Regions from separate parts of the Homo sapiens genome. Here region 1 is reported to be linked to region 2. Evidence: microRNA targets listed by miRTarBase, many of them from high-throughput screens and not tested one by one. Region 2 holds a microRNA gene; the other region holds the end of a gene's coding sequence.

The links. Region 2 holds the annotated microRNA hsa-miR-449b-3p (CAGCCACAACUACCCUGCCACU, at 1,225-1,246, opposite strand). A microRNA usually pairs through its seed, bases 2 to 8, with sites in the 3' UTR of a target mRNA and lowers its output. Matches are read on the target gene's strand: a 7mer-m8 pairs with bases 2 to 8, a 7mer-A1 pairs with bases 2 to 7 and ends in A, and an 8mer does both.
Region 1: the mRNA of SMG8 is a reported target of hsa-miR-449b-3p. Seed matches in the 3' UTR shown: 7mer-m8 at 3,000-3,006.

What each region holds. Positions count from the first base shown.
Region 1 is chr17:59,214,581-59,218,062 of GRCh38, reverse strand. SMG8 (SMG8 nonsense mediated mRNA decay factor) reads right to left here. Exons shown (of 4, transcript NM_018149.7): 4 at 2,833-3,258. The coding sequence ends at 3,061. Among named protein-coding and RNA genes, the nearest start is that of GDPD1, 4.2 kb to the left of the region's middle.
Region 2 is chr5:55,169,443-55,172,442 of GRCh38, forward strand. MIR449B (microRNA 449b) reads right to left here and starts at 1,300; the gene lies at 1,204-1,300. The region is part of intron 2 of CDC20B (cell division cycle 20B); the gene reads right to left. It overlaps MIR449A (microRNA 449a), which reads right to left and starts at 1,180; the gene lies at 1,090-1,180. It overlaps MIR449C (microRNA 449c), which reads right to left and starts at 2,911; the gene lies at 2,820-2,911.

The DNA.
Region 1 (3,482 bases), not on the chromosome of region 2:
CCGCGCCTGGCTAATATTGTGTGTGTGTATATTTTTCTTTTCTTTTCTTTTCTTTTTGAAAAGGAGTTTCGCTCTTGTTGTCTAGGCTGGAGTGCAATGGCACGATTTCAGCTCACCACAACCTCTGCCTCCCGGGTTCCAGCGATTCTTCTGCCTCAGCCTCCCGAGTAGCTGGGATTACAGGCATGCATCACCTGGCCCGGCTAATAGTAGAGACAGGGTTTCGCCATGTTGGTCAGGCTGGTCTCGAACTCCCGACCTCAGATGATCCACCTGCCTCGGCCTCCCAAAGTGCTGGGATTACAGGCATGAGTCACTGGGCCCGGCTAATTTTGTACTTTTAGTAGAGATGGGGTTTCACCATGTTGGCCAGACTGGTCTTGAACTCCTGACCTCAAGTGATCTGCCCACCTTGGCCTCCCAAAGTCCTGGGATTACAGGTTCATTCTTATATTTTCTAAGAAGACAGAACAACAGGAAAAGTATGAATTCAAAGTCAGAGTTCTGAATTCTTTTATTATTTTATATAATTTTCTTTTAATGAAGGCGAGAGAAGAAAGAGGAGCATTTACTTTTTTTTTTTTTTTTTGAGATGGAGTCTCACTCTGTTACCCAGGCTGGAGTGCAGTGGCGCAATCTTGGCTCACTGCAACCTCTGCCTCCTGGGTCCAAGTGATTCTCCTGCCTCAGCCTCCCAAGTAGCTGGGATCACAGGAGCACGCCACCAGGCCTGGCTAATTTTTGTATTTTTAGTAGAGACGGGGTTTCACTATGTTGGTCAGGCTGGTCTCGATCTCCTGCCTCGGCCTCCCAAAGTGCTAGGATTACAGGTGTAAGCCACCGCACCCAGCCTATGTATATTTTTAAATTAAAAAACAATGGCTTTAAATGTAGCAAGATGTGTTAAATACATATTTCCTATATATTGAGACTAAAATCTACAATTCTATTTGTCCAACGTTTCAAAATTAGTGTGTCTATGGAAATGTAATCAATTACACAAGAGTTTAGGTATGTTAACTTAATTTGTACTTACCTAATTGGTGATATATCACAATATACCACTATATTGCCATCTGATTGGTGATAACAACTAGATGGTGATAAAAATTAGATGGTGATATAGTGGCATATTGTCATGTGGATGCTGGTGAAAGTTACCATAGATTGGTAAGAATTTTTTTTTTTTTTTTTTTTTTTTTTTGAGACGAAGCCTCACTCTGTCACCAGGCTGGAATGCAGTGGCGCAATCTTGGCTCACTGCAACTTCCGCCTCCCGGATTCAAGTGATTCTCCTGCCTCAGCCTCCCGAGTAGCTGGGACTACAGGGGTGTGCCACTACACCCAGCTAGGTTTTGTATTTTTAGTAGAGATGCGGTTTCACCATGTTGGCCAGGATGGTCTCGATCCCTTGACCTCATGATCCACCTGCCTCGGCCTCCCAAAGTGCTGGGATTACAGGCATGGGCCACTGCACCTGGCCCAAGATCTTTTTTTTTTTAGACAGGGTCTTGCTCTGTTGGGGTGGTATGATCACAGCTCACTGCAGCCTAGACCCACTGGGGTCAAGCCATCCTCCCACCTCAGCCTCCTGAGTAGCTGGGACTACAGGCATGCACCACCACATCTTTATCTTTTTTTTTTTTCTTTGTAGAGACAAGGTCTCACTATGTCTTCCAGGCTGGTCTTAAGGGATCCTCCTGCCACCTAAACCTCCTAAAGTGCTGCAATTAAAGGCATGAGCCATTGTGCCCAGCCTGATTGATAAGATTTGGATCACTTAGCAAATTGTTTCACAGTACAGGAATTTTTAAAGAATAGTCTGCATTGACCAGGCAAGGTGGCTCACGCCTGTAATCCCAAGACTTTGGGAGGCCAAGGCAGGTGGATCACCTGAGGTCAGGAGTTCAAGACCAGCCTGGGCAACTTGGCAAAATCCCACCTCTACTAAAAATACAAAAATTAGCTAGGCGTCATGGCACGTGCCCATAATCCCGGCTACTCAGGAGGCTGAGGCAGGAGAATCACTTGAACCCAGGAGGCGGAGGCTGCAATGAGCCAAGATCCCGCCACTGCACTCCAGCCTGGGTGACAGAGTGAGACTCCGTCTCAAAAAAAAAAAAAAAAGAATAGTTCGCATTAATATACTGGATTAAAAAGTTTAGTTTAGATAATATTCGTTTAAATTATGGTATCTCATCAGGCCAAGATAAGAACAAAACCGTTTAACTAAAGTACCAGAATTGTGAGTCAACCAATTGTGCTTTTTTTGGAATTAAATCAAGTATCTTCATATTATTACCAGATAACCTAATGTATCAACTTGTTTAGAAGATAATTTCAAGACTAGTATCTTAAAAAAAATCCCAGCTAGGCTGGGCTTGGTAGTTCATGCCTGTAATCCCAGCACTTTGGGAGGACAAGGTGGGCGGATCACCTCCTGAGGTCAGGAGTTCGAGACCAGCCTGGCCAAGGTGGAGAAACCGTCTCTACTAAAAGTACAAAATTAGCCAGGCGTGGAGGCGCATGCCTATAATCCCAGCTATTTGGGAGGCTGAGGCAGGAGAATGGCTTGAACCTGGGAGGCGAAGTCCACGGTGAGCCGTGATTGCACCATTCCACTGCAGCCTGGGCAACAAGAGTGAAACTCTGTCTCAAAAAAAAAAAAAAAAAAAAAAAAAAAAAAAAAAAAACCAGCTAAAACATTATTTTAACAAAAACAAAATTTTGGCTCAACATGGTTATGCAACATTCAGTTATAATAGAAACATGTTTAATTATGGAGAGTAAAACAGAAACGAGAAAAAACAGGTATCATCCATGTATTTTATATTCTTTTCTAGAACAACCAATCTTTATTAGAAAGTTGTAGTCACGTTTACAATAAATATCAACAATATAATGAAAAAGTAGAACAAATTAGTTTCCAAATACTGAACTCCTGTAACCAAAACACATTTTGGATTTGGGAAAACACAGTAAACACATACCAAAAACACAGCCACAAATACCAAAAACAAAAACCAGCTCAAGTATAGGATTGAACTGGCTGGAAAACACTTATTGTGTTACTGCCTTAAGAACCCCACGGAGCACCTTGTAGCTCATTAACTGCACATTTTCCTTAGGGGGGAAACAAGGTCCTCTCTCAGTCACATATGCATAAGGAAATCTCAAAACCCAAAGGCCATCAGGTGGAAGGGTGATTTCTTGTTTTTCTGGGTAGAATACCGGACATGGTGGTGGGCCTGGCTGAACCTGAAAAACACAGGTAGTATAATTATTTTCACATTTCTCAATATGAAACAACTGAAAGATAAATGCCTAAACAGACGATAGGTTCAAAGAACATACAAGGCCAGACCTGGTGGCTCACGCCTGTAATTCCAGCACTTTGGGAGGCTGAGGCAGGTGAATCACGAGGTCAGGAGTTCGAGACCAGCCTGGCCAACATGGAGAAACCCCATGTCTACTAAAAATAC
Region 2 (3,000 bases):
AATACTGCATGTCTGGAAGCCAGCACATATCTATGCTACTTCGTGGGTCAAAATGCCTCCAAGGTAATGAGAATATATTTAAGGTCATATTGTATGGTCAGTTCTTCCCACTTCACAAGTTGTTAGATCTCATGCTGTCTTCCAAATATTTCATGAACCTGTGATTTTACAGAAAATGAAGTGAAAGGATTGAGGTAGATCTTCCAAAAAAATGTAAACCATCCCCCACCCAAAAAAAATCCCCAATATTCTTGATATTTCAAGTGAAAAATGTTTTAGTTGACTGACTCATCTGGAAAATTACCTCAACTTTCCCTTCAGTTGGTACACACACAGTCATGGCTATAGAAACCAATTCTAATGCTGTATTTAGAAACTAATGATGCAGAGGCCGGGCGCAGTGGCTCACGCCTGTAATCCCAGCACTTTGGGAGGCCGAGGCGGGTGGATCACGAGGTCAGGAGATCGAGACCATCCCAGCTAACACGGTGAAACCCCGTCTCTACTAAAAATACAAAAAAATTAGCCGGGCATGGTAGCAGGCGCCTGTAGTCCCAGCTACTCCAGAGGCTGAGGCAGGAGAATGGCGTGAACCCGGGAGGCGGAGCTTGCAGTGAGCCGAGATCGCGCCACTGTACTCCAGCCTGGGCGACAAAGCGAGACTCCGTCTCAAAAAAAAAAAAGAAAGAAACTAATAATGCAGAAAGAATCCTAAAGACTTCACTGAAAATCTGGGGACACATTGTAGGTCCATTCCACATTGTTATTACATTCTAAACCTTATAGTTAAAAACATGTAATTTCATAAATACTTAAACACTGTCTACTCCGAAAGACTCCAAAGACTCCAAAAATATTTCTTAAAAATTTTTAGTTATGGAAAAGCAGGCATAAGTAAATTTTTCTTAAAAGGAAAAAATTTAAGTAATTGTAATACTTTCCTTACCATTATAAAACTGTGCATTGTAAGTATTACTGTATTATAAGCTAATGGCAATAATATATTATGGTAAATAGTGGCTTGCTTCATAGCAGAAAGTACACATAAACACACACTAATTACAGATTCAGTTACACTCTGATGTTCATTGTATATGCAATAAGACAGCAGTTGCATGTTAGCCGATGCCATTCACATATTCAACCAGCTAACAATACACTGCCAGCTCATCACACACAGGTATCCAGAGCACTTCATTGACAAGAAGAATTTATCCAGAAGCAAGTGGCAGGGTAGTTGTGGCTGCTGACTTGACCCAAGCAGCCAGCTAACAATACACTGCCTACCTGATTCAGGTCACTGCCGATTCTCGTGGCCCAGGCAGTCACTGAGGCTAAATTTGTAACATGAAACATAGTGGCAGAACTCTAATCTTAATAGTCACATTAAAGAAAACTTATACACAAAATGTATTACTTCAAGACTATAAGAAATAAAATCAATATTTGCTTGAATCTAGTCAAAAACATAAAAGTTAAACAAAAACTTTAAAACTTTCAGAATACTTACATTTAGGTTTTCCAAATTAAATGCTTGGATAAAAATATGTTCTACAGTACAAATGAATTTTAAAAGTTACTTAACTGTAGGCTGGGCGCAGTGGCTTATGCCTGTAATGCCAGCACTTTGGGAGGCCAAGGTTGGCTGATCCCCTAAGGTCACAAGTTCAAGACCAGCCTGGCCAACATGGTGAAACCCCGTCTCTATTAAAAATACAAAAATTAGCCCAGCGTGGTGGTGCTGCCTGTAATCCCAGCTACTCAGGAGGCTGAGACATGAGAATCACTTGAACCCGGGAGCTGGAGTTTGCAGTGAGCCGAGATTGCACCACTGCACTCCAACCTGGGCAACAAAGTGAGACTCTGTCTCAAAAAAATAAATAAAAAGTTACTTAACTATAGCTTTTCAAATCACTTCTGTTTACTGATCCAAAGACTACTTGTCTGTATTAGACAGTAAAATATCTAGGAGTCGTGATAATACATAAGCTGTGCACGACACAAAACTGCAGCAGTGTTTGGGGGAAAAAATCAACATTAAAGTATTTAAGAAATGTAAGGGCTTAAATGCAATTAGTTTTCTCCTACTAGAAATGACATTAGTAATCGAGTTCTGAAAATGCAATTATGTATTCAATATAGGATGTTACCACTTGAATACTGAATTTTTTTTTTTAAGAGGCAGGGTCTGGCTCTGTCCTCCAGGCTGGAGTGCAGTTGTGCAATCATAGCTCACTGCAGCCTTGAACGCCTGGGCTCAAGCAATCCTCCTGCCTCAGGCTCCCAAGTAGCTGGGACTACAGGCACATGTCATCATGCCCAGCTAATTTTTGCAGTTTTTTTATAAAGACAAGGTCTCCCTGTGTTGTCCAGGCTGGTCTTGAAGTCTTGGCCTCAAGTGATCCTCCTGCCTCAGCATCCCAAAGTGCCGGGATTACAGGCATGAGCCACAGTGCCTAGTTGCAAAATTTATATAAGATCTAGAAAAATCTATTAAAATGGTGGTGGATTTGGAACTAGAATCTCTGCGTACAGGTCAAAGGAAGATGAACTATTGAGCCTAGAGAGAAGCATGGTAAATGGTGACAGAGATTTAAAGCAGATGAAGGCTCTTTATGAAACACGTTTATAAAACCATTTAAATTTGTTTCCTTTTACACTGATTACAGGAGACACTAAAGACCTTTGGGTTTGGTCTTTCAAGGAGAACAGGTACTACATTGGATCAACTTTAAATTGCTCACGTTAAGAACCATGGTTTATGCCACTTCTCCACATTGTCCACAAGATGGCACCATTTCCATTTCTTTGGGGGGCGTGCTTCTGAATGCAACAGAGAGGAGTGCAACTAGCAACTGTTAAAATCATTAACAGCCGCTAGCAATACACTGCCTACCTGACACATCCCAGCTTTATCCTTTGCTGTGGAGGCAGAAACTAGAAAGTACGATTCAGATGCAAACGATTGCATTATTTGTCTGGGATCTTCAGTTTCATAAA